2 separate regions of the Homo sapiens genome follow, and region 1 is linked to region 2. Evidence: fine-mapped expression QTL. A gene starts in region 2. The other region holds a variant in brackets. All regions are shown on one strand. Distances are between the middles of the regions. Region 1 holds the start of LOC112268440 (a long non-coding RNA gene). Region 2 holds the start of CROCC2 (ciliary rootlet coiled-coil, rootletin family member 2).

The links. PIP is the estimated chance that this variant, and not a neighbour inherited with it, causes the effect. A credible set is the group of variants that fine-mapping cannot tell apart.
Region 1: its variant is the best candidate, but not a certain one, in a credible set for the expression of CROCC2 in tibial nerve (GTEx, PIP 0.82).

Annotation. Positions count from the first base shown.
Region 1 is chr2:240,924,253-240,939,684 of GRCh38, forward strand. It overlaps CROCC2 (ciliary rootlet coiled-coil, rootletin family member 2), which reads left to right. Exons shown (of 32, transcript NM_001351305.2): 5 at 1,472-1,628; 6 at 5,914-6,017; 7 at 6,679-6,876; 8 at 8,066-8,162; 9 at 8,450-8,656; 10 at 8,879-9,090; 11 at 9,418-9,600; 12 at 10,079-10,223; 13 at 10,664-10,810; 14 at 11,106-11,336. It overlaps LOC112268440 (a long non-coding RNA gene), which reads right to left and starts at 8,953. Exons shown (of 3, transcript XR_002959483.1): 1 at 8,866-8,953; 2 at 8,102-8,260; 3 at 6,890-7,890. The variant A/G (reference allele first, on the strand shown) is at 8,928.
Region 2 is chr2:240,896,913-240,912,344 of GRCh38, forward strand. CROCC2 (ciliary rootlet coiled-coil, rootletin family member 2) reads left to right here and starts at 9,424. Exons shown (of 32, transcript NM_001351305.2): 1 at 9,424-9,679. The coding sequence starts at 9,602. RefSeq lists enhancers at 1-415, 5,264-5,765, 5,766-6,265, 8,077-8,577.

The DNA of each region.
Region 1 (15,432 bases), 27 kb after region 2:
GGCCCCCCACACTAACCCAGCCCCCACACTAACCCAGTCCCCACACTAACCCAGCCCCCCACACTAACCCGGCCCCCACACTAACCCAGCCCCCAACACTAACCCAGCCCCCACACTAACCCGGTCCCCACACTGACCCAGTCCCCACACTAACCCGGCCCCCACACTAACCCAGCCCCCACACTAACCCGGCCCCCACACTAACCCAGCCCCCAACACTAACCCGGCCCCCCACACTAACCCAGTCCCCACACTATCCCGGCCCCCACACTAACCCGGCCCCCACACTAACCCAGCCCCCAACACTAACCCAGCCCCCCACACTAACCCGGCCCCCCACACTAACCCGGCCCCCCACACTAACCCAGTCCCCACACTATCCCGGCCCCCCACACTACCCCGGCCCCCCACACTAACCCAGCCCCCACACTGACCCGGCCCCCCACACTGACCCGGCCCCCACACTGACCCAGCCCCCACACTAACCCAGCCCCCACACTAACCCGGCCCCCACACTGACCCGGCCCCCACACTAACCCAGCCCCCACACTAATCCGGCCCCCACACTAACCCGGCCCCCACACTGACCCGGCCCCCACACTAACCCAGCCCCCACACTGACCCGGCCCCCACACTGACCCGGCCCCCACACTGACCCGGCCCCCACACTGACCCGGCCCCCCACACTGACCCAGCCCCCACACTAACCCGGCCCCTCACACTGACCCGGCCCCCACACTGACCCGGCCCCCCACACTGACCCAGCCCCCACATTAACCCAGCCCTGCACAGCAACCAAGGCCCACCAGTCTCCCAGACCTGGGGAGGTTAAGTTGTCTATAGAATATCGACACATTTGGTTCATCCTCCAGGAATCTGGAAAAGGAATCAAAGTGCTGAGAAACTTTTGAAAACCAGTTTTGAGGGGGAAGAAAAATAACCCAAGAGGAGGCTTAGGCCTGGCGGGGGTGCCGGCTCCCGAGGTCCACCCACCTGGCGGACTTGCACCCCTACTGCAGCAAGTGTGGACCTACTTGTGGTGGGGAAGTCCCCAGGGTGCAGCAGAAGCCGTCCCCCACCACGGGCATGTCTGACTCCCTCTCCGCGTCACCCCGCCCCGCGAAAGGCACCTCCCTCCCAGCCCCTGGCACCTTGTCTCAGGCATTGAGGGACGGGCCAAGGTTGCAGAGCCAGAGCCAGGAGAGCTCGGGGCAGGGGCAGATATCGCAGGGAGGCAGGAGGGCACTGGGCTGGCACCTGGGAGAGCCACCTTGATGCTGGCACTCAGTTTAGGGGTCCTTTGTGGGGCCCATGGCAGGTGGGGGCAGAGCAGCGGCTGTGCACCTGAGCCCAGGTCAGTTAGGCCCAGAGGGTTTGGGGTTCCATTCAAGCCCCTTGACTTGGGGACTCTGAGCGCCTCTCTTAGGAGAGGCTTCCTACCCCCACCATGCCCTGTGGGTTCTCTGTCCAGGAGCACCGGCCTCTGTCAGGTGAACGCGCTCCTGCGGGAGCAGCTGGAACATATGAAGAAGGCCAATGACGCGCTGGGCCGGGAGCTGGCCGGGATGACGGGCAGCGTGCAGCGCCTGCAGGGCGAGCTGGAGCTGAGGCGCTGGGCCCAGAGACAGGTGCTCCCCCAACCCTTGCTCACCTCATGGCGGCCGCCTGTCTGGGTGCCTATGGCTGGGTAGCAGGCAGGGACATGGTGAGGGTGCACTGGCTCAGTGGCTGTCCCTCTTGGGGACGAGGCCACAGCTTCTTGCCACACCATGTCCCCAACCCGGCTTGGCCACAGCAGTCTGTGGAGTGAGGGACTTCGTGGTCCACCCCTACTGCCCCCCACCCGGAGAAGGAGGGCAGGGATCTCAGAATGGGGCACTGGGGCCGCACCCCAGCTCTGGTGTGGACCACGCTCTTTGGAGAGGCAGGTTGTTCTCCGTAGGCCGAACTCCTGGCCAGACTTCAGGAGCAGGGACCTTGGAAGGAGCCTGGGGCTGCACTGCTGCTCACAGCACCTGGCCGTGGCCCCCCAGGTCCCCCTGCAGCCTTTCCCACTCCAACTTCTGAGACCCTGAGGCATGCAGGGGGTCAGGGCACAGAGCTCCAGGCACCAGCCCCTGTGGGAGGGAGACATCCAGGTGTTCATGCCCTGCTCGGATCTCTCCATGGTCGTGGGACCCCCTGAAGCTGCTGTGGCCTTGGGTACCGTGGCTCTCCAGCCAGGCAGTCCCTGAGGGCCTGAAGGTGTTCCCAACAGCCCTCCAGCAAAGGGGGACTGGACGCCCAGCCCCTGCATGCTATGGGCACCACGGGCAAGGATTTCCCCAGGAAGACGGGCCCCCCGGAAGATGTGCTGCGCCAGGTGGAGGCAGGAGCCGGAGGGGCAGCCGCGTTTCTGGCCTCCAGTTGCCTCCACAGACGTCCCTCAGACAAGCCTGTCCCAGAGGGGCCGCCACTCGCCCCCGAGGTCCCAGCCCCGAGCCCCCCACAGCTGCTGCTCCTGAAAGGCAGGTGTCAGACAAACCAGCCGAGGTTTACACCCCGAGAGGGAATGCCGGCCTCTGCATAGCGTCAGCGGGAGCCGTGCTATCAGCAAGGAGTCATCGCCTATGCCAGGCCTTCTGGCTCGAGGCGTTTGAGGCAGATCTCATGTTCCCACTGCCTGGTCCCTGTCCTTGGACCGCTGGACAGGTCACCTGAGGATCCCGGGAGCCGATTCTGCTGTGTGAGAACAAATGCCAGAAGGAGAGGGTCCCTGAGCTCAGTTTGGCATTCGATCACCCAGGTCTTTATTTTCCCTTTGTCCTTGAGAACTGTTCTCACTGGTTGACAGCTGCTTTCTCTCGGCACCTTAAAGATATGCTTTCTCTTTCTCCTTCCGCTGCTGCTGTTGAGAAGTCAGCTTCCAGGCTGCCTGGATTCTGACTGGCTCCTTATCGAAGTAACATGTCTTCTCACCGGCTGCTCTGAAGACCCCTGCTCCGACTTGTTGTTGTGTCGTGTCCCTGTGTTGTGTCTGCGTGTAGATTTATTTGTTTATCCCGCTTTAGGGTTCGCGGAACCTCTGTGTCGCTTGTTATTTTGGGGAAGTCAATATTCTTTAAACATTGCCGGGGCTCATCATCCATCTCCCCTCCTCTGAGCTCCGGCTAGACATGTGTTAGCCATTCTTACGCTGTCTCCCAGGCACAGTTCACGGATTTGTTCTTTTTATTACCCTAGACTATATTCTAGATAATTTCTTCAAATTTCCTTTCCAGTCCATCAGTTTTCTCTTCTGATGTCTAATCTCTGTTAAATTTGCCTACTTAGCTTAAATTGCCAATATTGTATTTTTCCTCATTAAGAGTTCTGTTTGATTCTTTCCCAAATATTAAATAGCTTACTCTTAACTCACATTTTCTTTTTTTCTTTTTGAGACAGAAGCTTGCTCTGTCACCCAGGCTGGAGTGCAGTGGCACAATCTCAGCTCACTGCAACCTCCGCCTCCCGGGTTCAAACGATTCTCCCGCCTCAACCTCCTGAGTAGTTGGGATTACAGGCGTGTGCCACCACGCCTGGATAATTTTTGTATTTTTAGTAGAGATGGCATTTCACAATGTTGACCAGGCTGGTCTCGAACTCCTGACCTCAGGTGATCCGCCTGCCTCAGCCTCCCAAAATGCTGGGATTACAGGCATGAGCCACCTCGCCTGGCTTCTTAACTCACATTTTCAAGCCTTTTATTTATTTGTTGAACCATGTTAAAAATAGTCTTTTTGTAGCCTGTGTCTGACTATCCAATATCTGAAATTCTTTAAGGTCTGGTTCTATTGTTTCTGCTGGTTTCTGATCATGGTCCTTTGTTTCCTTGTGCCTTTGGTGATTTTTTATTTTTTAACTAAGAGCTGCTTATTTTCCTTGGAACTCTGTGAAGTTTCTTTGAAACCTGAGGTGAATACAGTATTTTCTAGGAAGGGTTTTTATTTGTTTCTGATAGATGCCAAGGGGCTCTAACAGTCTTTGGGGCCACATTGAAGTACATTTTCAGCTTCAGTTTTCTTGAGACTATCCTGGTGATGTAGTGTGCTTCCATATCCACAAGGAAGACTTTTTTCTCTGTTTAACTCCGACATTCTGGACAGGCAGTTTTCCTTATAATCTCTTGCAGGGTCATGTGTGCCTGTTTTGTGTGTGTGTGTGTGTGTGTGTGTGTGTGTGTAGCAAGAAATTGCGTACACTCCCCGATGGTCTGTGACTTCACCAACTCCTGGCCTAAGTGTTCCAGCCGTTCAGGCCAGCCCAGCCCTGCATTCAGGAAGAGGCTGTGAATCTGGACTCTCATGAGTTTAAGCGGCAGGTTAATCTGGCAGCCACACCTCCATGTTGCCAAGAAGTGTCTCAGCCTGCTCTTGTGATGAACACGGAGTGCAGGAGGCGGTGCGGCTGAAGCAAGCGTCTACCCCGTACAGCAGGCACGGGGTGGCATGCCCTCGGAGGGCGTGCAGACAGGTGTAACGGGCTCAGAGGAGCACGCCCTCGGAGGGCGTGCAGACAGGGGTAACGGGCTCAGAGGAGCATGCCCTCGGAGGGTGTACAGACAGGTGTAATGCACACAGAGGGGCATGCCCTCTGGAGGGTGTATGGCCAGGTATGGGTTCACAGAGTCATGCCCTCCAGAGTGTGTATGACCAGGTGTAATGGGCTCAGAGGAGCATGCCCTCGGAGGGTGTATGGCCAGGTATGGGTTCAGAGAGTCGTGCCCTCCAGCGGGTGCATGGCCAGGTGTAATGGGCACAGAGGGGCATGCCCTCTGGAGGGTGTACAGCCAGGTGGAATGGACACAGAGGGATGTGTTCTCCGGAGGGTGTATGGCCAGGTGTTATGGGCTCAGCTGGGGGGAATCTCAGGTGTGGGATCAGGTGAGGGGGTCAGGCAAGCTTCATGAAGGTGAGTTGATCTAATACCTGAAGTTCTTCAAGGTCTCGTTCTATTGTTTCCGCTGGTTTCTGGTCATGGTCCTCTCTGGGGGTTCTGGAGAACGGGCAGGATGTGAGTGCTCTACCTGAAGGCACCCTGGAGGAGCAGGGGTGGGGCTGTCACAGGCAGGCAGAGGTGGTAGAAACACAGTAGCACCCTGAGTTCCAGAGGTCAGTGAGCAGGAGAAGGTGAGTGCAGGGCCTAGAAGGTGGTGTGGAGACTCTGAGACTTCTGGCTTTCATCTTAGCTCCCTGCAAGGCTGGAACCACTGTGCACACACAATTCCCCCCATTCCTGCCCCCACACAGAGTCCTCCCACTCCGCTCCGTTACAGCCTAATCACTGGCCTTGTCTCGGTTGTGGCTTCCCACCCTCCTCCCTGCTGAACTGGGTACCCAGTGCTAGAGGCTTCTAACTTGCTTCTGTGTCCCTGGCACCTTCGAAGTGCCAGACCAACACCTGGACATCTTCAGGAGCCCTCCAGAGTAAGGAGAAAGACTGTACTGGAGAAAGGCAGCCCGTCCTCTTCCATTGGAGTGGCAGGGCAGGAGCCCTGTGCTGCAGAAATGTCTGCCCCAGCAGGGGCCAGGCCTGGTTCTGGGGTGTTCCAAGCCTGAGCAGTTCCTGAGAGTAGCTGGGGAGCCGCGACTGAGTCAGCACCTTCTCTCTTCAGGGGCCCACGCACCCCACCCTCCCACCTCCATGCACGCAGGCTGGCCTGGGAGGGCTGGATGTGGTCACGTCCCCAGATCATCTCCTGGGGAGGGGCACAGTATGGCCCCAGGGTGGGGTTGGGGGAGCCCAGGGCTCATTTGCCTGTGAGATATGGGGGCTTTGGGATGCTGGGTCCACTTCCAGCCCCCATGGAGAGGGACATGCACTTGGAAAAGAGTGGGCTTCAGGGAGGGTAAAGGGGCCCCAGCCTGAAGTAGACAGGAGGCCTCTTGCTTTCAGACCCGGTCAGGGGGCCTGGGGCAGCCCCGGGACCTCCTCCTCCTGTGGAGACAGGCCGTGGTGCTGGGGACAGACCTGGCCGAGCTGCGTGTAGCCACTGAGAGGTGAGTGCCAGCCGCCCCACCTGGGGCCAGGCACCAGGCTGCAGGGAGCTGAAACCCCCTTGGGGAGGGGGAAATCGGTGCCCAGGGCGGGCTCTCCCGTGGGTGCAGTAGCCCTGGCCTGCCGGCTTCTCACCCAGCCCTGGCTGGGCCTCAGGCCGGCCAGTGGGAGCAGCGATGAGGGCAGCCTAGGAGGGCAGTAGGGGAGAAGGACAAACAGGCCAGGGAGGTAGGTTGGGGACACCAAGGAGAGATGAGAGGAGGGTGAAGAGGACACTGTGGGGTGGGGGACACCTACCCAGATGGAGCTTCTGGAGTCTGTCCAGCCCTTGCTGGGTGCCACACTGGAGGTCAGTCCTGGTACCACCCTGCTAGCCCTTAGGTACGTAGCAGCCCCTTGCGCAGGAGGAGTCGGGGGCTCAGAGGGTCGATGACTCGGTGAAGGCTGCTGAAGCCTGAAGTGTGCAACCTGGTCCTGCCCCTGCTCACTCCTCCCCAGCTGCCTTCCTGGTGTTTGGTGACACATGGGAACAATCAATGCCATGCAGTGGGGGCTTCTCCTGACGATGGCCAAGGAGGGGGTCCTCTGTGGGGCTGATGGGACCAGGCCCTCCCTCTGCAGATGGGTCCTGAGTCCGCCACAGATGCTGCCCTTGTCTCCCAGGGGCCTCGCTGACCTGCAGGCAGACACGGCCAGGACAGCCCGCCGCCTGCACACCGCCTGCCTGAACCTCGACTCCAACCTGCGGCTGTCGGCCAGCAGCACGGCCAGCACCCTGGGGCAGCAGCTTCGGGACAAGGCTGGGGAGATGCTGCAGCTGCAGGGCCGCTGGGACGCAGAGAAGGTGGCGCTCCAGGCCAGGTGGGCGCCCAGGGCCAGCAAGCTTGCACAGGGAGGGCCCGGGGGGTCGGGGCCCATCCAGCGTGCCGAGCAGCTGTGGATCCCAGATGTGGTCACACCGTTCCAGGGCAGGTGGGGCCCTGATGTCACTGGTGGTGCACACTCTTCAGAGTCACCATCCCAGTGGCTGCAGGGCACTCCCCTAATGCCCAGGAGGCAGACACTGGGGTCTCCTACAGTGAGGGTTTCAGGGAGCACGGCAGGGAACTCACTGGGACTGCGTCCTGGGGGTCAGCACCCAGAACTGGAGTTTTCAGGCTTAAAGCAGGAACATTCTTCTAGGGGCAAGAGCTCACCTTAGGTAAATCATATAAAAACCGAGGCAGGAAGAGGGACCAGGCCACCTCCTGCCCGATATGAAGGACACCCACGCCCTCTCTGGGGGTCTATGAGCCCCGCCGTGATTGTGGAAGGTTTTGGACCCACCACCCACATCGGGGGCTCAGAGGTCTCTTGAGGGCAGCTTCAGCAGAAAGTAGGGAGGCGGCTCCCCAGTGGAGGTCTAACCTGCTGGCCGTGGGGCCAGTGCCTTACAACCCAGGGTCCAGGGCCCACTTGTCCACAAACACCCCACCAGGCTGACAGGCAGAAGCCCTCCCTACCCTCAGGGGGTCCAGCTGAGTCAAACACACCACAACCCAGCCCCAAATGAGCAAGACAGGACATGGGGGCCCAACGGTGCCATACAGCTGCAGGGGCAGCACACCAGGGCCTGAGCCACAGGAAGGGGGACCTGGGGTCTTTAGGAAGAAGGTGCATCCTGGGAAGGAAGGAACAGTAAAATTACTTATTGTTAGACTAATGGTGACAGGTGCTCCAGGCAGAAGGACTGGCCAGGAAAAGGCCTGTGGTGGGCACTCCCTCTGTTGTGCCACAAGGACAAGGCAGAGCCTCGGGCAGCCACTGCATCTGAGGCTGGAGAGCTGGTCAGGGTGTGGGCCTTGACTCCTGAGACACTGGGAGCCACTGAAGGCTCTGTGGCAGGAGAGACACATGCTCAGACCAGGGACAGAGGCCACTCAGACGGAGGCATCACCCAGCACCGGCAGGGGGGCCACCGCACAAAGGAGTCCGGGCAGAGCCAGGGCATGCTTGGGTGCCCGTCCTCTGGGCCCTGCCCTTCACCCCCACACCCCCCGACTCCTCCCAGACTCTCGGAGCAAACCCTGCTGGTGGAGAAGCTTACAGAGCAGAATGAGCAGAAGGCGAAGACCATCGCTGCCCTCAGAACCGACCTGCAGAACCTGGTTGGTGGGCAGGACGGGGGTGGCTGTGTGGCAGGGGTCTGTCACCCTTGCTCAGGAGTCTCCCCTGCCACAGGAAGCCTGGTGCGGCAGTGGACGGCCTGCAGGGCAAGGTGGGGTCCCTGCAGTGCACTTTGAGGCACGTCAGGAAGGTGTGGCCCCTCGCCTGTCCTCCCAGTGGCAAAGGTGGAGGTAGCCCGCAGGGACCCTCAGGACTGTCTGCGCGGTCCCCACCAAATCATGGCCCTGTGCTCTGGGCCCCTCTATCCCTTCCTCTCTGCACCTTGAAGGTGGCCCAGGAGGACGCCCGGTGCCTGGAGCTGGCAGGTAGCAGCATCACTGAATTGGGGGAGCCACGGCGCCCACTGAGGAGCCCCCAACGTGCCACATCCCCCCATCAAGGGGCGTCCCCACCACACATCTGCTCCCCAGCCACCCTGGACCCCGCACTGCAGGCCATGCGGGCAGCCATAGAGAGGCGGTGGCGGCGGGAACAGGTGGGCAGCCGCAGCCCACAGGACTCCCTGTCTCCCTGAGGGCAGAAACATGAGCCCCTCAGGCTGAAGGGTAGTTATGGGGCCTGCCCCTGAGCCCCATGGCTCCAGGGAGGGGCCCCAGTGTCGGGGGTGTCCTTTCTGGGGAGTCGCAAGCCCTGGTGGGCCTCGGTGGGCAAAGCCTGCCTAGGCCAGAGAGGCCCACAACTTACCCCACCCGAGCAGGAGCTGTGCCTGCAGCTGAAGTCCTCCCAGGCACTGGTGGCCAGTCTCC[A/G]GGAGCAGCTGTCCGAAAGCCGGCGGGAGCTGTGGGCCGCACAGAAGCTCCAGCAGGAGCGGGCTCGGGAGCAGGCACGGGAACGAGAGGCTCTTCGGGGCCAGCTGGAGGCCCAGAGGCTCGAGGTGCAGCAGTGCCGGGCATCCTGCAAGCTCCTGGGGAGGTAATGGGGTGAAGGGGTTGCACGGCCTTGCACAGGGTGTATGGGATCCTGAGGGCCCAGGGCTGCTGTCAGGACAAGCACCTCTAGAGCTGGAGGGGTTGCCAGCCGGGGAGGGGTCCTTGCCTTCTAGCAGAGTTGTGTGAGCACCAGTTGAGCGTGGGCCAGGGTGGGACACACCCGCCAGTGAGACCCTGTCTGCTTCTCAGGCTCCCTCTGCCCATGCAGTCTCAGGGGCTGGCATCCACCCAGCCCCCAATGCCCACCAAGGCACGCGGTGCACCTTGAATGTGTCCAGGGCCGCCCCAACTCTGCCCCCACCATCCCCAGGGAGAAGGCTGCTCTGGAGATGGTGGTGGAGGAGCTGAAAGGGAAGGCAGATGCTGCAGATGCGGAGAAGCAGGGGCTGGAGGCCGAGGCTGCAGAGCTGCAGAGAAGCCTCCTGCTGCAGGCAGAGCGGAGGGAGGAGCTGGCTCTGCGGAGGGAGCGGAGCTGCAGGGCACTGGAGACCAGGTGCGCGGCCGTGGCTGGGTGGGCAGGGCCCCTCCCACAGAAGAGACCCCACTCTGCCACCATCAGCCACTTGGCCTTGGGCCACGGGTCTGCTTTTTCACCTGTCTCATCTCAGGGTGTGGTGGCCCTAACAGGGCAGGGGCGGGGGCTCTCCAGGCTTCTCCCCAGGCTGCACCATCCTCCAGACCAACCCTCACTTCCTCTGGCCCAGTGCCCCACCTGGGCCACCACCCCGTGGGCCCATCAGATGTGGGGCCCCACCCCTCCCGTCCCCCCGGAGGCACTTGTGCCTCCCCTGCCCCGGAAATGAAGCCTGGAAGCGAAGGGCTCCCTGCCTTCCTGGTCCTCCAGGGACTCCATGCTCCTCCTGGGCCTCCCTGGGCTTGGAGGGAGTTGCAGGTGGTCGCCTGCCTGAAATCCCATGGGGCAGCCACTGCTCACCCTGAGCGACCTCCCGCCCTCTGGTCTGGGGCCTCAGTCAAGGCCGCCTGCAGCAGCTGGAGGAGAAGGTCTCCGGGCTCAGAGAGGAGCTGGCATCGGTCCGGGAGGCACTGAGCACAGCACAGCTGCAGCGGGATGTCGTGGAGAGTGAGAGGGAGGGACTGCGCAGCGCCCTGGCGCGGGTACACTCTGCTCCCCACAACCCCGCCCCCTCTCCTGTCTGCCCCCACCCACCCTGGCCTCACTGACCTGGCCTCCCACTCCCTCTCTCCTGCCTGCCGGGCCCCTCAGCCCATCACCAGAGATCCCAAAGTCACCAAAGTTCTCTCCCGTCCCCAACCAGTAGGCACCAGCCTGGCCCAGCTGCTGTCAACCCTGCTGGCCACGCCTGCTTCTTTGTGGCCTCTCCCTGGACCACCAGCCACCTCCTCTGGCTGGAGCCTTAGTGCCTGGAGCCACCATTGGCCCTGAGACCTCCCCACTGTGGCGACCTTCCCACCATGTCCGCCCAAGAGCTCTGGCTTGCACACCTCCGTGGCTCAGGGCTCACTCCTTTCCCAGCGGCAACAGCCCTGCCCTGGAAGCTGAAGGTCCCTCCCTGGCATCCCCCTCCCTGCCCCAGGCCGAGTGCAGCAATGCGGACCTGGAGCTTCTTGTGAGGCGGCTGAAGTCGGAGGGAGTGGAGCAAAGGGACTCCCTGGCCGCAATGGCCGCCTTGATGGAGGGGTTGGCTCAGGACAAAAGTGCCCTGAACCACCTGGCTCTCCAGGTGAGACAAGGGCCAGTGGGGCGGGCCTCGCTGGAACCTGTTTCCCAGGTGGCTGTGGGTCTCCCAGCCCTAGGCCTTCTTTCCATCCTCCCAGATCACTTCCTCTCCTGGTTTGAGGTTTTGGGGACAAGGGAGCCTGACTAGCCCTGGCCAGGCCTGAGGGAGGGAAGAGAGTGCCCCTGGGCCAGGCCTGAGGGAGGGAAGACAGTGCCCCGGGGCAGGCCTTGGGGATGGCTGGCCTACAGGGACCGAGGATGGGGGGAGTGGATGCAGAGCCCCCGACACCTGGTGGCAGCTGGAGCAGGAGCGGGACCAGCTGCGGGAACAGCGGAAGACTCTGGAGCAGGAACGGGCCCGGGCCGGGGAGCAGCTGGCACAGGCGGAGCAGCAGCTGGCGCTGGAGCGGGCAGAGCGCAGGGGCCTGCAGCAGGCCTGCGGACGCCTGGAGCAGCGGCAGGAGCAGCTGGAGGGGCAGGCAGCCCTGCTGGGGCGAGAGAAGGCCCAGCTCCAGGAGCAGGTGGGCCAGGTGAGGACGTCTGCAGGGCATGCTGCCGCCGTCTGGGATGCGGCTGGGTGGCAGGTCTTGCCTAAGGTACTTCTGGGAGTCAGGCAGGCTCAGGATGCCCACATCAGCTCTTTCTGTCTTGGTAACGGATCAGGCCCAGTGCTGGCCTCCCCGTGGGGGTGGGGGCAGGGGGAAGGTATGCAGAGAAGAAGATTCCCATCAGGCCTGGCCACCATATCCATCCCGCCACTTGGCAGGGGAGCCCGGGCCTCAGGCCAGTGACTTCTGCACACTGGGCTCTTAGTGAGCTTTGCTGTTTCCTCCTCTGTCTTGTTTCTCCCTGGTCCACATCCACACAGCTGAACTCTGCGACTGCACATTCACTGGTGCCTCACTCATTTATTCCCAATTTCCCCATCTTTTGTTGAGGAAGCTCAACTCACTGGAGAAAAAAACAGTCTTGGTTTTTTCCAATCCTGCCTCGTTCATCCGTGTGAAAACCCTGTCCATGCTGAGTTTCAGGCCCCTGTGACTCAGATTCCGCAGCCCCCGTCACATTCAGGACAGCTCAACCCTCCTTCCGTTTTCAGATTCTGCCTTGTCCTTTTCTGGGGTCACCTTTTTCCTCTTTTTCTATTGACATTTAATAAGTCAGTGTACAGTATCAATGAATTTTGACAATTGTACAAAGCCAGGTAGCCGCCACCAGGATCAAGACACAGAACATTTTTGTCAGTCCAGCAGGTTCCCCCACGTGCCTTCAGCCATTGCCCAAAGCCCCCGGCTCCCACCCAGGTGACCTCTGCTCTGATGTGCAGCACCACGGACTGGATGCACCTGTTTCCGAATTCCTTATAAATGGAGCCATGCAGTGTGGACGCTTTTGTGTCCAGCTTCTCTCTCTCAGCATCATGTCTTGGAGATCCATACATGTTGTTCAGTGTATCACTAAGCCCTTTCTTTTTAACTGCATAGTTATATTCCTTGGGATGAGTAAACCACATCTGCTTACTCATCCACCTGTTGCTGGACATTTGGATTGTCCAGCAACAATGTTTCCAATACTGGTCCTGCCTACAAGGTCCTTCCTTGACCCTGCCTACAAAGGGCACTTTTACATATCACTGGGACCAGCACCCAGGTGATGTGAATTCTCTGCCTGAACCCTGCCTACAAAGAGCATTGTGGCTTATGTCTAGGTCCATTATGTAAGTGATGTGACTCCCTTCTACTGCCTTGGCCCTGTACTTATGTTGCATTGTGTGACACACACTTGGTGATATGGTTTAGATTTGTGTCCCCACCCAAATCTCATGTCAAATTGGAGGAGGGGCCTGCTGGGAGGCGACTGATATGGGACTGTGATGCACAAGGCTGCTATAAACCTTCTTGTACAAGTCGCATACATATATTTTTATTTTTCCTAACTAAATACTTAGGACCAAAACTGTGCACTCACTGTATAGGTGTGTGTTGAACTTTTATAGGGAACAACCAAGCAGCTTTCCGAAAAAGCAGGCAGCTTTCCAAAAGTGGTTCAATCACTTTGCTGCAGCCAGCAGTGTAGAAGAGTTCCAGTTGCTCCTCTGCCTTCTCGACATTTGGTATTGTCTGTTTTTTTGGGTTTTGTTTTTTGTTTTTTTAGCTATTCTGTATATGTGAAGTGATACATCACTGAGGATTTCATTTGCATTTCCCTCATAACTGAAGATATTGAACACATTTTCATGCATGTATTGGATATTCGTATGCTTTATTTTATCAAATGTTCAAATCTTTTTCCTATTTTTTAAACTGGGCTTTTGCATTTTGGTTATGAATATACAGGAATTTATATATCATGGATACAAGTACCTTGTCAGATACATGTCCTATGACTATTTTCCCCAAGGTTGTGGCTGCCTGTACATTTTCTCAATGATATTTTTTATGGATGGACATAAAATTTTAACTTTGGCAAACTCCAATTTATCTATTTCTTTTTTTAGTTTTACAATTAGTATTTTCTAGGTTCTGTCTGAAAAATTTTTGCCTACCCCAAGGACAAGAAGATATCCTCCTACATTTTCATCTGGCTTTCACATTTGGATCTATGATCCATTTCAAGTTTATTTTTATGGACAGCAGGGGTTCTCCACGTGTGCTTCCCAGACTAGCAGCATAAACATCACCAGGTGATATGGTTTGAATCTGTCTCCCCACTTAAATCTCATGTCAAATTGGAGGAGGGGCCTGGTGGGAGGTGATTTGTTCATGGGGCCAGATTTCTCCCTTGCTGTTCTCTTGATGTTGAGTGAGTTCACACAAGATCTGATGGTTTAAAAGTGTGTGGCACTTCTCCCTTCACTCCCTCTCTCCTGCCACCATGTGAAGAAGGTGCTTGCTTCTCCCTTCACCTTCCGCCATGATTGTAAGTTTCCTGAGGTCTCCCAGTCATGCTTTCTATTAAGCCTGTGAACTGTGAGTCTGTTAAATCTCTTTTCTTCATAAATTACCCAGTCTCAGGTAGTTCTTTACAGCAGGGTGAGAACAGACTGATACACCTGGGGACTTGGTAAAAATGCAAATGCTCATGCCTCACACAAGACTTACTGAATCAGAAACTCTGTGGGCGGGGCCCAGAAATCTGGATTTTAATTAGCCCTCCTTGGGATCCTGCTGCACACTAACGTGTGAGGACCACATGTGTATGGTATGATGTAAGAACTAAGGTCCATTATTTTTCATACTAATACCCAGTTTTTCCAGCACCATTTTTTTCAAGTCTCTCCTTTGGTCCTTGATTAAATGTGGCAACTTGTTGAAAATAAACGGATCATATATGTGGGATTTGTTGATCTGTGCAAGTCAATCTATTCATTCTTTCACCAAAACCACACTGTCTTGATTATGATAGCTTTTTAGTAAGTCTTGAAATTGAGTAGTGTACACACATCCACCTTGTTCTTTTTCAAGATCGTTTTGGCTGTTCTAAATCCTTTGCATATGCATATACATTTTAGAATCATCTTGTCAATTTCTTCTTCCCTCCCCTGCAAAATAGCCTACTAGGAGTTTGATTAAAATTGTTTAGAATTTATAGATCAACTTGAGGAAATGGACATCTTAAATATACTGAATATTACATCCATGAATATGGTATATCTCTCCATGTCTTTACTTTCTTTCTCTCAGCCATGTTTGTAGTTTTCAATGTAGAGTTTTCTTCCACATCTTTGATTAGGTTAATTCTAGATTTTTATATCATGAATTATATTACGGTTTTAATGTCATTTTCTTATTGTTCATTATTATAGAAATACAATTTCATATGTTTATTTTGAGTCATGTGACCTTGACAAATTCACTTATAAGTACTAAGGTTGTATGTTTATATAATTATTCATCTGTAACAATAGTTTTACTTTTTTTCTGATCTGAATATCTTTTATTTCTTCTTCTTATCTTATTGCACTAAGACCTGCAGAACAAAGTTGAATATAAGTGGTGAGAGTGGCCATACTTCCACCCAAGGCAATCATGGGGAAATAATTTGATGTTTCACCATTAAATATGATGTTATCTGTAGGCTTTTCATAGATGCCCTTTATCAGAGTAAGGAAGTTCCCTTCATTCCTAGTATGCTGACATTTTTAAAAAATTATAAATGGGTACTGGGTTCTGCTAAATTCTTTTTCTGGAACTATTAAGATGATCACATCATTGTTCTCCTCATGTTGTTAATGTAGTGAATTACACTGATTAATTTTTTAGATGTTAAACTTGCATACATAATAAGCCCTACTTTGTCGTGAGTTAGTATCCATTTTATATATTTTTTATTCAACTTATAAATATTTTGTTAAAGATTTTTGCATCTATATTTGTGAGTAATATTTCTGTAATTTTCTTTCCTTGGAATCATCAGATTTGGAATCAGAGTTGTGCTCCTAAAATACACTGGAAAGTAGTCTCTCTTCCTCTGTTTCCTGAAAGTGTGTGTGTAAAATTGGTATTACTTATTTCTTAAATGTTTGGCAGAATTCACTAATGAAATAATGTGAGTCTGGGGTTTTCTTTGTGAGAAAGCATTTGATAATGAATTCAATTTCTTTAACAGATATAAAATCTATTACAA
Region 2 (15,432 bases):
GCACCAGGTACCCTGCCAGCCCCGCCCCCCTCCCCTGCTCAGGGCCGTGCAAGTCCCAACCAGCAGGGAGCCGCCCCATCGACCCTTGGCCCTGCCAGCTGGCCGAGTGCATCGGGTGCTCAGCCACAGGGGTGTCTGCAAACAGTGAACATGGAGATGGCCCCACAGGGGCGTCGTGGAGATGCTGCCCCTGTAGCCACCGCACGTGGGCCTCTCACCCCCCGGGGAGCTGCATCTGAGTCAGAGCTGTGGGCAGAACCAGGATCCCAGGAGGGGTGGGGCAGGGGGCAACAGCCACTCACTTCCTGGTGCTTGGAAGCCCCTATGAGGGGCTGCAGCCCAGTGAGCGGGTCTCTGCTTCCATGCCTCCCAGGACAGGGAGCTCACCACCTCACAGGGTAGCCCACGGTCAAGCGAGAGACAGATATCCCTCCTCCAAGCTGGCCCACTCCTGTTCCCTGGAGTTGCTTAGAGCACGTGTCCCCCTCCCCGAGGGCAGCCATTCAGGTTCAAGGCCCCATTTGTCCTGGGCCCTCACCCACGGCCTGCCTAGGTCCCCACACACAGCCGTGTGCCACACTCCTCCATCTCCACAGGACTCTGGCCTGGGGGAGGTGGACGCTGCTGCAGGGCAGCTGGGGTCCTACCCCTCACCCTCGGCCGCAGTGGCCCAGGGAGCTCATCTGCCTGTTCTGGGCCTTGGCTTCAACATCTGTGATTTGATGACACCTTCAGTGTCCCAGCTCCTCCTTCCCAGGAACCTCCCGGTGTTCTGAATTCGCCCAGGAGACCCCCAACCACACCCCAATCTACCCAAAGTGCCCAGGGGCTCTGAGCCATGGGAGGGGCTCGGCTTCTCAGCCCCCAAGCTGCTCCCTCCAGTGGCCACAGAGCAGGGCCCTTCTCCCTCGGGAGCGGCCCCCAGGCTTTGCATCCTCCTTTGCCCCTAAAGCCCCCTCTCCACTGCTGTCAACACCAAGAGCACAAGACCATGTCCCCCCTTTCCTCTCTTCAGCAGGGGATTCCACCTGGCTGACACCCTGTCCTGTCCTTCGCTGGCTCTGGCCTCCTGGCTCCCACCAGTTCCTGAGCTGAATCCAGCTGGTTGCCCCAAGGGACCCCACTCTCTCCACCTGTGCCCCAGCTGAGGTCAGAGCCTCTGATGGGCCAGGCCCCATCCTTGCCCCTTGGCCCTTCTGGCAGGTGGTGAATGACATGGTGAGCTCCCTATGGCTGGAACGGTGTCACACTCCTCAGTGTACCCTAGAGCCAGGCACGATGCCAGGCACACAGGAGCATGTGGAGTACACCAGGGAACTGTGGACAAGCAAAGGTCCCCGGGAAGCTGGACCTGTGGGAGAGAGAGGAGAGCCGCTGCTGACGGAGGGGATGCGGGCACCCGCCCTGGACGGCTGGGCAGCTTTGACCACAAAGGGGCCAAGTGCTCCAGAGGCCTTCAGGCAGCCACTAGCCACAGTGCACCCAGGACTCCAACTCTGACCCCAGGAGGGTAGCGTGGTGAGGGTGGGGAGGGTCAGAGAAACCAGACGTGTCCTGGGGCCTTGGCAACTCAAGAAGGGGTTCCTTGGCACCTGTGGCAACCGCAAATGCTCAGATGGGTGTTGATTCAGTCTCTCAGTAGAGCTCAGGGCCAGAGCACGGATCCTGTATTTCAGGAAGTCCCGGATGTGCTGGGAAAGGCGGGGTGGGAAGCAGACATTCCGGCCTGAACAGAGTCCCAGGGCTGAACCTAGGGAAGCAACAGGGGCACACCCTGAGCCGTGGGGGCTCCACGCAGCTGCAGCCCACAGCAGGGGCATGTTTCCAGGGGTGCGACAGACCACGGCGGAGGTAAAATGACAGAAGTGAATTCTCACAGCTCTGGAGGCAGACGTCCAAGAGCATGGTGTTGTGTGGCTGGGCTCCCTCCGGAGGCTCCAGGGAAGCGCAGCTCCCACCTCTCCCAGCTCCAGTGCAGCCGCGTTCCTTGGCCACGTCTCTCCATCTCCGTCCTCACGTGGCCCTCTCCTGTGGGCAGCTGTGCTATCTCTTTCTGCTTCTCTTACAAGGACACTGGGGAGACCATTTAGGGCCACCAGGCCGTCCCAGATGATCTCATCCCATAGGCCTCCCACAGTTCAGTCTGTTACCACGTAAGATCTCAATTCACCCACGGTTCAGTCTGTTACCGTGTAAGGCCACACTCTCTCCTGTGCTTTATAAGGTCCTGTTCACAGGTTCTGGGGACTAGGAGGTGGCTGTTCCTCAGCCAGCTACGGTCAGCAGCCCCCATACCACCGCGTGCCAGGAGCCCTGCCAGGGCGCTGCCTGCAGGGACCCTGTGCTTGCTGCCCCTCCCCTAGCCCAGCCACCTGTTTGGGAACAGTGGGCACAGCTCTGTGCAGCCTCAGGCATGCAAAAGCAACCAAGACAGGAGTCTCCAGCCGAGGTCTACACCAGCCACCAATGCCTGCAGTACTCCGGGAAGGAGACCCTTCTTCTGCATCGGGCCCTTCTCTCCAGGACACTGTGGTCCGATTCAGCCAAGGTGCCCAGAGTACCTGCCAGGCCTGCTCAGGCTTAGGTGCGGATGCAGAAAAGTCAGACTTGAGCAGACGAGCTTGGCACCATGGTGTGGCCTGAGCAAGTCGCTGCCCCGCCTGGGCTCCAGGTCCTCAACGGACAGTGAGGAGTCCACAGGAGACAGACTCTCAGACAGAATCCAGCCGCCCAGCGCCCAGACGCCCTTTACGCAGATGCCTCTGCGGGGAAGCAGCTTCCGTGCTGACATGAGCAGTCTGGACTTCAGGATAAAGCTGCAATGCTCACCACGAGGGACAAACCCGCGTCCTGACGCCCAGAGCACATGCCCGGCCCCTGCGGCCTCCCCTTCATGGCCTAACTCTGCATCAGGGTGGCGAATAAAATGCAGGACGCCCAGCTGTTAGGATTAATCTGAAGTTCAAATCTAATTTGCATGGCACACAAACATTTATTGTTGTTGATCTGGAGTTGGAATAGAACAGGGATCCCTGTATTTCCACTGCTAAGCCTGGCAGCCCCCCTCGGAGCAGCACTGAGCGGTAGGGGTGAACCCCCGCTGGGAGGAGCAAAGCAAAGAAGCAGGGGCTGGGGGAGGAAGGAGGTGATGGGCAGTTACGCCCCAGGTGGACGGAGATGGCTGGGGAACAGTCAGGTGTGTGGCGGGGTGGGTGGGGTCGTGGGCTGGGGGCTACTTTGGACCACCCTGAGGAGCTGAGCCGCATGGGGCTGAGGGCGGGCTGATCCCTCACCTGGAAAATCCAGTGGGGAGCAGACATTGGAGCAGACTCATTTTTCTGAGGCAGGCTCAGCCCAGGACAGGGGTTGGGCAGGTGTCCCGGGGAGAAGGAAGCTCGACGGCACAGGGGTGGGTGGAGGGCGGTGTGAGAGAGGGGAAGGGGGTGTTCTCTCAGTGGTGGCATGGAGACCGCTCACCTGGGCACACGGGGACACCAGCTCCGTCTGTCCGGGGCTCCAGTCGCCAGCTCAGGGCCAGACCACAGGCTGCAGCTCCCCTGGAACGTGCAGCTGGGTGGGGGAACCCTCTAGGTCTCCCCAGGTGCTGGCCACAGTGGGTTTTGTTTTGCTTGGTGGTTGGCGTTTTAGTTTTTTACATTTTGGTAAATAAACATGACTTTTACCATCTTGACCACCTTTAAGTGTGTGGCTCAGCGCCATGAAGAACATTCGTGTTGCGGCGCGGCCATTGTCACCGTCAGTCTCCAGAGCTCGTCTCATCTTCCAGGCTGAGACTCTGTGCCTGCTCCACACTGACTCCTGCCCCTCCCCCAGCCCCTGGCTCTCACCATACTACCTTCCGTTTCTAGGGCTTGGAGCGCTCCTGGGACCTCAGGTAAGCGTCGGCCTTAGCACGCGCTTATTTCACCTGGCGTTATATCCTCAGGGTTCTTCCAGATTGTGGCATGTGTGAGAATTTCCTTCCTTTTAAAGGCGGAGTAATGTTCCACGGTGGGGACGGACCACATCATCTGTGAACAGACACCTGGGCTCCTTCCACCATCGGCTGCAGTGCAAATGCTGCTATAAACACAGGGGTATGAATATCTCTTTGAGTCTCTGCTTTCAGTTCCTTGGGGTATATGCCCAGAAGTGGGTTCCTGGATCATATGGGAACTCTGTTTAATTTTCTGAGGATTTGTCACACCATCGCCACTGCAGTGCACGAGAGCCCTGGCTTCTCCACGTCCTCCCCAGCACTCATCCTCTGCGTTCTGGGTAAGAGCCATCCCAGGGGTTGTGAAGTGCTGACGTGCTGTGGTTTTTGATTTGCATTTCTCGGATGAGGCGACTCTGAGTGTCTTTCACATGCCTGTTGGCCATGTGTGTATCTTCTTTGGAGAAACGTCTGTTCAGGTCTTTCGCTCATTTTTAATTGTGTTGTTTGTTTTCTTGTTGTTGGGTTGTAGGAATTCTTTTTTTTTTTTTTTTTTTTTTTTTTTAGACAGAGTCTCCCTCTCACTCAGGCTGGAGTGCAGTGGCGCCATCTCGGCTCACTGTAACCTCTGCCTCCCAGGTTCAAGCAATTCTCATGCCTCAGCCTCCTGCGTAGCTGGGATGACAGGCGCACGCCACCAGGTCCAGCTAATTTTTTTGTATTTTTTTAGTAGAGACGGGGTTTGGCCAGGCTGGTCTCGAACTCCTGACCTCAGGTGACCTACCTGCCTTGGCCTCCCAACATGCTGGGATTACAGGTGTGAGCCACCACGCTTGGCCAGAATTCTTTATAAATTCTCAATACTAATCCCCTATCAGATATAAAATTGGTAAATATTTTCTCCCATTCTGTGGGTTTTCACTTTCTTCATAGCATCCTTTGATGCACAAGTTTTCAATTCTGATGCAGTTCAATTTATCTATTTTTTTCTTTCATTGTCTGTGCATTTGATGTCATATCCAAGAAATCACTGCCAAATCCTGTGTCATGAAGCTTTTGCCTACATTTTCTTCTAAGCTCTGTATGGCTTGGGCTCTTACCTTTGGATCCCTGGGCAGGCCAGTAGCCCCAAGCCTCCTCTGGTCCCCAGGCAGGAGGTCCCTCCCCAGGCACCTTTCTTCACTGTGCTGTGGTATTCAGCCTCTGCCACGCTGACAGAAAGCACCAGAGAGCAGGGTCCCCAGGCAGCCCTGCAGCCTCTCCCAGGACCCAGGTCCCCCAGGGCCTGCCACGGCAGCATCCACCGGCAACCCCTCACGTGGATAAACACAGGGTGGGTGAAGAGCGAGGTCTTCTCTCCCACCCCACAGAACCTCTCAGGACCTGCCTGCGCCCACAACCATCTGGATGCCCCCTAAAACCCAGCACATGTATCCAGCTGGCCTCTCCTCTCAGGAGAGTGGAAAAGACCTTGAAAATCACACCAAATGCATTGTTCTCCCGCATCAGACCACTTGCCTCACCAGCCACCACCCCTGCCCTCAGCTGGCCTCCTGTCCACGCCCGACAGATGGGGGTGGGACGGTGCCACTCGGCTGCTGTGTGCAGAATGGGGTGGCACTTCCATGCCCTCTGAAGAAAGTTCATGTGCAGGGCAGCTCTGCAGAGAGGGTAGGCAGTGGACAGAATGTGGCGCCCTCTGTCCCAGCCTCACAGCCTCCAGGGCTGCCCGTCCTGCCGTAATCACACTGGGATCTTTCCTGCCTTCCATCACTGTCTCAGCTCATTCAGTGACTCTGCACCCCCCAGGGCCAGCGTCTCCTCCTCAGAGCCAAGTCCACACCTGGCAGAGTAGACTGTCTGAGAGGACAGCCAGTGACTGCTCAAGAGGAGTGGCTCCATAGCTCCCCGGGGCTGACCTGGGTCACAGCCTCTTTGGGTTCTGTCCGAGGCACATCCCCTGCTGGTGCTAGACAGGAAAAGACACCCATGGCCGGCTGTGTGGGTGCCTGGCGGCCAGAGTGTCTGTGCCTGCTCATCATCGGTTCCTGTGTCCCCATGTGGGCCCAGCACAGCCAGGATTAGGGACTGTCCCCAAGGAGATAAGGCTGTAACTCCTTATCTCCTTGATAAGGAGATACAACGTTATCCTTGATAAGGATAAGCAAGGTTTCCTGTTTCAAGGGAACAATGACAAAACCGGTGATGGCGTATCTACAGACAGGTGTTCCTCTGAGCCCAGGAGGGTTCTTCCTCAGCCTCCAAAGCCAGGCAGGTGGGGCAGGACAAGGAGGACCGCATCTAGAATGGCCATGGGTGCCGAGTACTTTCCCCAGTCCCAGGGAGGGAGGCGTGAGGTCCAGAGAACAAGAGCTCAACCCCCATCAGGCTGTGGGTCAGGACTGGGCAGGGCCCCCCGAGCCCCGCCCTCCCGAGAGCCCACCCCACAGAACGCCTGCACTCAGGGAGGACCCTCTATCCCATCCTCCACTGTCCCAGGGCGTTCCCCGGGGGGCCCAGCCAGGCTCCGGCCAAGGCCTACCCTGTGGGTTCTTCTAGTCTAGCCATGGCCCTGGTCTGGGAGCCCCATAATGGACACCCCGCAGTGAGGCCTTGGGGGGCATGCACGGGGCTGGGCCAGCCCTCGCGCCCTGGAAAGGCATCCTGGGGGGACTCCGGGCCACCGCCGGCAGGCGTGGGCTTTCCTGTACAGACACAGGGGGGCAGGGTTAAGGGGGAGAAGCAGCAAAGGGGGAGAAGTGGAAAAGAAACGAGGATGCGTCCGGTGGAGCAGCCAGGACCCCAAGGCTAAGAGGAGGTGGGCGGCAAGGAGGGCCTGCCTTGGGTCAGGGCCCCACCAAGAGGAGGGACCAACCTTCATGGTTCACCAGGACTCTCCCAGGAAATCCCTCCTCCGTGGGCAAACCCTGCAGTGACTGAGGAAAAGGGGCACGGGAGGACATCTGGGAAAATCATGGACTTGGAGCTGCCGCAGGCGGGGGAGGCTGAACTGCAGGCGGCCACGCCCACCCCAGATGGCACAGAGGCTCCAGGCGATGCCCACCTGGACCGACAAAATCCCATCCTCACGTTTGGTCTCGTCCAGGGCAACTCCACAGCCAGAAGGAACTTTCTAAAACTCAGACAGGCCGGGCGCAGTGGCTCACGCCTGTAATCCAGCACTTTGGGAGGCCAAGGCGGGAGGATTGCTTGAGGTCAGGAGTTCAAGAGCAGCCTGGTCAACATGGTGAAACCCCATCTCTACTAAAAATACAAAAATAAGCTGGGCATGGTGGCGAGTGCCTCTAATCCCAGCCACTCTGGAGGCTGAAGCAGGAGAATCACTTGAACCTGGTGGGGGGAGGTTGCAGGGAGCCAAAATAGGGCCACTGCACTCCAGTCTGGGAGACAGAGCGAGACTCCATCTCAAAAATAAATAAATAAATAAAAATAAAATTAAACACAGATGGGAGCCCCTGCCCACCAGCCCTCCTGAGAGCCGTCACCTGCAGAGGCCACAGGGGGTGTCTCCACCTGGCTGGGCCCAGTGCACGTCACCTTTGGCCTGGATGTACGGCTTCAGGTCAGGGTGTCTCTCCAACACCCCGACTCAGGCCACCGGGCCGCCCCTGAACATGGGCATCTGTGTCAGGACTGACACAGGACTTGCTTCTGGCATATGAGGTCTTATCTCCACCTATCCAAGAGGCCCGCATGGGAGATCACACTAGCCTCCCAGCCACTCCCCACCGTTCACAGGTCCACACGGATGCCCCTTCCTCACTCCACCCGCCCTGCCCCCAGCAGGAACTCTCACCAGAGGCCAGGGCCACACCCTCTAAGCCCTGACCCACCTCAGGGGAGTTCAGCGGAGCCCCAGCAGGAAACGCTGCCCCTCCCCACTCAGGCTGAGGCATGGAGGGCAGGACTCTCCATGGCCACAGGGCCTCCCAGGACTCTGAGGGTGGGCGACCGGCAGTCTTGGGTCCCTGGGGGATCTGGAGGCTGCTCAGGGAGGGGCCTAGCCCATGGAGTGGGTGTCCTCAGTCTGGACCTGAAGCCAGAGGTCATGCTTGGGCCAGAAGCACGAGGTTCGGAAGGACTGACCAGGCCCCTGGCACCCCAGGGACTGTCCAGTGAAGCCCAGCCCGGATGCCCATGGGGCCATGTCTGGCCAGAGAGCCTGGCCTGTCCCTGCAGGGCCACCCTGGAGGTTGTCCTCAGGAGTGGGGGTGAACAGAGCACAGGTGTTTCTCTGGGAGGGCTCCTTTTGAGTACAGGTGCCTCTGCTTCTTGAATTTCGCCTCTGAGGAGGTGGCCTGGGCCCTCAGCCCCTCTCTCGGCAGCCCCAGGGACAAACATGCTGGTCCCCCAAGTTGGCATCCACCTCCACTGCCCGGGCCCCTGTGGCCTTGCTGGGCAGGCTGCCTCCCGGTCTCCTGGGCTGGCTCCAAGAACCTGGGTCTCTGAGAGACTCGGAGATGTACCCATCCCCAGAGGCCCCTGAACAGGGCAGCCTTTCATGGGAGGGCAGCCACTCCTGCTGCAGGGCCCACCTCTGCGGCTGTCCCTTCCCCAGAGGGACTCCTGCCAGCATCAGCTCAAGGAGGTCCCAGCTCAGAATGAGGAGCCCCAGAGGGAGTGGAATGGGGCGGAAACGCTGGCATGGCTGCCTGCCAGGCACCTGACTTCATCTGAGGCCCCAGGAGGCCCAGACTCCGAGCCACAGAGCTCTGCGTCTGTAGGGACAGCCGGCCTGGGGGTGGCAGGCATGGCCCTGCTTCCCTCCCATTGCCCCACCTATGGGAAGCTGCCCTGCCCTGGCATCCAGACAGCCCCTGGCAGCCCCTGGGGTGGGAAGCCGTGGGCAAGTTCTGCAGACCCTCCACCACGCATGCTGACCAGGGACTTCTCCCCTTCGGACAGGGTGGCTGGTGGTCCTTTCCGATTCCACAGGGTGGGAAACAGTGCAGGTTCCCAGGGCAAGGGTGGACCCATGGGCAGGTGACTCTGAAGGGCTCTAGCGGGAGTCAGACTCCAGAAGGACTCACAGGTGCAAGGCCAGGAAGACAAGATTCCTTTGCCCCTCAGGCAGGCAGCGTCCCTCTCCAGGTCTCAGTCCACCACCTGCGACGACCACTACGTTCTTTGACAAATGTTTTTCAAAAGTCATAGTTTATGAGTCCAGATGAAGGAAGACCAGTGCTCTGCATGCTGCCTCTGCCCACCGTGTGTCCAGCAAGCACACGGCTCCCCCTGGAGCGAATGCGGGAGGGGGTGTCTGGGGGAAAGGCCAGCCCCTCCCAGGTGCCGTTGCTCAGGTAGACAGTTTTACCCAGGGCGTCTCCAGGTCTCCAGGCAAAACTGCTTCCAGCCAACAGCGTTCCTTTGTCCCCACAGCAACAGGGTCCTGCACTCCTGTTTCCAGGGAAACCCAGCTCTCAGCGTCCCGGTTGCCACAGCAATGCCTACGGGCTCAGCTGGCCATACTGTCTTACCCACAGGGCAAGAGCAACTGGGTGCCCAGGCTCGGGACACAAGACTGCAGAGCCAGGTGCCACACAGGTGTGGGGCCCGTGGACCAAGGAAGACCCTGGCCAGTTGGAGGAGAACTGCCAGGTAGCAAAGCCCAGACTTCTCTGGGGTCCTGCGCTCTGGGCTGCAATGAGCTCTGCCTCCAGTGAGCCTGGCAATGGGGACGCCTCCCAACAGCCCCTACTGGGGCTGGACACCGTGATCCAGGTCAGTGGGGTGGTCACTTCCCTGCACCCTCCTGAGAGCAGGTTGCCAGGACACTTTGGAAGGGACGCGGCAAAGAGAGGGGATGGCCAGGAGGCACCTTCCTGGCTCCCGGGGCACTTTCCACTTGCTCACGTGTTTGCCTTGAGCGTGCAGCCAGTCACGGATGCAAGCAGGCGCGCCTGCATGCACACACAGGCAGCCTTCAGCCAGGAGAGAGAGCCTGGGGAGAGAGGGCCCAGGGCCGCTGCTGGCTATAGACATTCAGGTGGCCGGTGTCCCTTGCAGCCACAGGTTTGCGGGGTGGAGAGAGAGCCCGGGGCCGCTGCTGGCTGTGGATGCTCAGGTGGCCGGCGTCCCTGGCAGCCACAGGTTTGCAGGGTGGAGAGAGAGCCCGGGGCCGCTGCTGGCTGTGGACGTTCAGGTGACTGGCGTCCCTGGCAGCCACGGGTTTGCAGGCTGCGCACTGGGGTGGGGATGGGCAGGCAGCCCTTGGTGCTGACATTCTGGGACCTCGTTCACTGCCCTCCCATGGCCAAGTGTGGGGCCAGCAGGGCCTCTCGGGGGACAGTGTTTCCATCGCTGCACATTTGTGGGAGGCTGTGGCTCAGCCCTAGTGTCTATTCTGTGGCTTCCAGATGTTCTGGTTCTGTCTTCGTAGCACCTGGTGTGTGACAACAGTGGCTGGGAATTGTCCCGTGTCCCTCTCCCCTTGCCTCCCTACTTCCCAGAGCCCACCTAGGACCCAGCCTGCGGTCCCACCTCGGATATCCCTCCTCCCTGCACTGCCGTCACCTGCTGCTGACCACCACAGCCAGGCGGCCCCACCTCCAACGGACCCCTCGGGACCCCAGGGAACCCCTGACGAACTGGCTTACTCATGGTTGCTTGTTAACCCAGCTCTTAGCATCTCAAAACTATGCCACGGCAGGCTGACATGGCCCTATCCAAACAATACAGATCACCTGAAAAGAGAAATGGCCACAGCTGGTGCAGGTGACCGAGTGACAGGGTAGATGCAGGGTTTGCTCACACACAGGGCTGCATGAGGACTAAGGGCAGGATATTTGAATCAGGCGATGCAACAAGACAAAGAGGTGCCGTGGGGTGAGCTCTACCTCCTCCACCTGGGGTGAGCTCTACCTCCTCCACCTCGGGTGACCTCTACCTCCTCCACCTGGCGTGAGCTCTACCTCCTCCACCTGGGGTGAGCTCTACCTCCTCCACCTCGGGTGACCTCTACCTCCTCCACCTGGGGTGAGCTCTACCTCCTCCACCTGGGGTGAGCTCTACCTCCTCCACCTGGGGTGAGCTCTACCTCCTCCACCTGGGGTGAGCTCTACCTCCTCCACCTCGGGTGACCTCTACCTCCTCCACCTCGGGTGACCTCTACCTCCTCCACCTGGGGTGAGCTCTACCTCCTCCACCTGGGGTGAGCTCTACCTCCTCCACCTCAGGTGACCTCTACCTCCTCCACCTGGGGTGAGCTCTACCTCCTCCACCTGGCGTGAGCTCTACCTCCTCCACCTGGGGTGAGCTCTACCTCCTCCACCTCGGGTGACCTCTACCTCCTCCACCTGGGGTGAGCTCTACCTCCTCCACCTGGGGTGAGCTCTACCTCCTCCACCTGGGGTGACCTCTACCTCCTCCACCTCGGGTGACCTCTACCTCCTCCACCTGGGGTGAGCTCTACCTCCTCCACCTCGGGTGACCTCTACCTCCTCCACCTGGGGTGAGCTCTACCTCCTCCACCTGGGGTGAGCTCTACCTCCTCCACCTGGGGTGAGCTCTACCTCCTCCACCTGGGGTGAGCTCTACCTCCTCCACCTCGGGTGACCTCTACCTCCTCCACCTCGGGTGACCTCTACCTCCTCCACCTGGGGTGAGCTCTACCTCCTCCACCTGGGGTGAGCTCTACCTCCTCCACCTCAGGTGACCTCTACCTCCTCCACCTGGGGTGAGCTCTACCTCCTCCACCTGGCGTGAGCTCTACCTCCTCCACCTGGGGTGAGCTCTACCTCCTCCACCTCGGGTGACCTCTACCTCCTCCACCTGGGGTGAGCTCTACCTCCTCCACCTGGGGTGAGCTCTACCTCCTCCACCTGGGGTGACCTCTACCTCCTCCACCTCGGGTGACCTCTACCTCCTCCACCTGGGGTGAGCTCTACCTCCTCCACCTGGGGTGAGCTCTACCTCCTCCACCTCAGGTGACCTCTACCTCCTCCACCTGGGGTGAGCTCTACCTCCTCCACCTGGCGTGAGCTCTACCTCCTCCACCTGGGGTGAGCTCTACCTCCTCCACCTCGGGTGACCTCTACCTCCTCCACCTGGGGTGAGCTCTACCTCCTCCACCTGGGGTGAGCTCTACCTCCTCCACCTGGGGTGACCTCTACCTCCTCCACCTCGGGTGACCTCTACCTCCTCCACCTGGGGTGAGCTCTACCTCCTCCACCTGGGGTGAGCTCTACCTCCTCCACCTCAGGTGACCTCTACCTCCTCCACCTGGGGTGAGCTCTACCTCCTCCACCTGGCGTGAGCTCTACCTCCTCCACCTGGGGTGAGCTCTACCTCCTCCACCTCGGGTGACCTCTACCTCCTCCACCTGGGGTGAGCTCTACCTCCTCCACCTGGGGTGAGCTCTACCTCCTCCACCTGGCGTGAGCTCTACCTCCTCCACCTCGGGTGAGCTCTACCTCCTCCACCTCGGGTGACCTCTACCTCCTCCACCTGGGGTGAGCTCTACCTCCTCCACCTGGGGTGAGCTCTACCTCCTCCACCTCAGGTGACCTCTACCTCCTCCACCTGGAGCTCGGCCAGCTCTGCCTGGGTGTTGGCTCCATGAGTTCTGAGAGCAGGGCTGGTGAATGGAGGCTGGAGAGCCAGCACACTACGTTTGCAGGACACTTGCAGCCCTGTGAGGATTCTCATCCCCTCGGATGTCAGGAAAGCCGAGGCGTAAGGGTTGGAGGGAGCTGCTGTGGTTAGCGGCTGGTCTGAGGGGGAATCCCAGGCCGATGCTGACATCAGGCAGGGGCATGAGCACTGTGCAAATGTGGCTGAGAGATGCTTAGCTTTGTCTGCCCCCAAATTCCCACTGTCCCCAGGAAACTCATCTGGAGGCTACGCAGGCCCCAGTGAAGTCTGCTCTGCCCGCCCTGCTGACACCTGTTATTTTTGCTGTAGTGATTGAGATCTTGATGCCATTACCCCAGAGTGAGCAGGGAGCAGGCGGGTGCCAGACGCCCAGATCAGCTGTCCAGATGGGCAGCAGAACCGTAGGGACACTCCACCCTCCAGCTATAGCCTGGGAGACCATAGGGCCTGAGGAAGGCCGTGGCTTGAGGATGCAGGAGGCCCCCTGTGACCAGGGGTGGTGGCTCTGGACGGATGGCGAACATGCTCCCAGGCCCGGAGAAGCCTCTCTGACATCCCTCTTCCTCCGGCCACAGCTGCTCTCCCCTCCTTTGGAAGCCCCCCAGCAACCTCTGCACAGCACCCCAGAATGCCCCCACCCTGGAGCTGGAATTGGATGTAAAGGGGCAGGCTTGGAAACTCTCAACCTCTGTCCCTGGGGTGAGCAAGTCGGACTTGGGGAGTGCAAAGCCCCCTGAAATTGCCCGTGAAGTGGGGGGTATCTGTGACTGCCTTGAGGGGTGGGGGTGTGCCCTTCCTCGGAATCTCCAGCACCCAGACCCGCAGCTGATGGAGAAGCATGGCGCAGAGTCCCGGACGAGGAACCCAGCACAGAAAGCCCAGTCCCCTCAGAGCTGGGGGCTCCTCAGACTCCCGTTCCTTGGCTTGAATTTTGATTTGTGCTATTTTTCTAGGAAATTGTCCATTACATCCAAATTTTCAAGTTGTTGAAATTGGCAAAAGTTGTTCACAATATCTTCTTCCTGTCTTTTGGATGTCTGCAGGATCCGTGGGGTAACCAGCTGTCCCTCTTTGCTGAGGGGCTCGAGACAGGGGTTTCCCAGGACTCCAGACAGCCTTGGGTCTGGAACCCCAGTCCTGGGCACAGTGGGGAGGAAGTGGTTGCCCCGAAGTGGCATCCCCTTTCTCGTTTCTGATACTAGCCGCGTACCGGCTCATAGTATTCTTATCTTGTGTTTCATTAACCTACATATGCATTCTTCCTTTAACCTGCATATGCATTCTTCCTTCGCTTTCAGTTTCTCTGGGTTTGTTCTTCATCTCACTTCTGGAAATATGTGCTTGACTCATTGATTGTTCAGCCTTTTTAAAAATTTCTTTTTTTCTGGCCGGGTGCAGTGACTCACACCTGTAATCCCAGCACTTTGGGAGGCTAAGGCGGGCGGATCGCTTGAGGTCAGGAGTTTGAGACCAGCCTGGCCAACATGGTGAAACCCCGTCTCTACTGAAAATACAAAAATTAGCCAGGCATGATGGCAGGCGCCTGTAATCCCAGCTACTCAGGAGGCTGAGGCAGGAGAATCGCTTGAACCCAGGAGGTGGAGGTAACAGTGAGCCAAGATCGCACCACTGTACTCCAGCCTGGGAGACAGAGCGAGACCCTGTCTCAAAAAAAATAAAATAAATTTTTAAAAAAATTTTTCATTTTTCTTTAAATTGTGGGAAAATATACATAACATAAAACTGACCATTTTAACCATTTTTAGGAACAATTCTGTGGCACTAAGCACATTCGTAGCGTTGAGCAACCATCACCACCATCCACGTCCACAACTTTTTTTTTTTTTTTTTTTAGACAGAGTTGGTCTCTGTCGCCCAGGCTGGAGTGCAGTGGTGCGATCTCGGCTCACAGCAGCCTCCGCCCTCCCATCTTCAAGCAATTCTCGTGCTTTAGCCTCCCCAGTAACTGGGACTACAGGCACACGCCACCATGCCCAGTTATTTTTTGTATTTTCAGTGGAGACGAGGTTTCGCCACGGTAGCCAGGAGGGTCTCGAACTCCTGACCTCAAGCGATGTGCGCGCCTCAACCTCCCAAAGTGCTGGAATTACAGGTGTAAGCCGCCACGCCCGGCCCCAGAACTTTCATCTTCCCAAACTGAGACTCTGCCCCCATTCAACATTCACGCCCCATTCCCCCCTCTCCCAGCCCCCACCATCCTACTCTCTGTCTCTATGAACTTGGTGACTCTAGCAGCCTTGTCTAAGTGGATCAGATGGTATTTGTCCCTTCGTGGCGGGCTTATTTCACTGAGCATGACACCCTCGAGGTCCACCCATGTTGTAGCAGGCGCCAGCATTTCCTTGCTTTTTAAGGCTGAGTAATGTTCTACTCATAGAGGGACCACACTCTGTTTATTCATTCATCTCTGAATGGACGCCTGGGTAGCTTCTGCCTGCCGGCCGCTGTGAAAATGCTGCTGTGAACCTCGGAGTACAAATATTTCTTCGAGCCTCTGCTTTCAATTCTTTCGGGCAGATGCCCAGAAGTGGATGGCTGGGTCGCGCGGAGAGTCTACATTTAATTTTGTGGAGACCTGTCATGCTGTCTTCCGTAGTAACCGCACCGTCTTACCCTCCCGCTTCTTTTCCTCTCTGACGTACGCACTTCCCTCCAGGCAAGGTTTATCTGTCTGTACTGTTGTTACTCATACCACTTTTAACACCAAATGTGTGGGTTTTTCCTGACACCAGCCAATTCTCCACCTCCCTGGACACCAGCTAGCTGTCCTACAATTCAATCCAGTTCGGACCCTAACCATCCAGAGCGGGCACAGACCCACAGTTTAAGGACTCAGTCCCATAAAGCTGCCCCACCTCAGA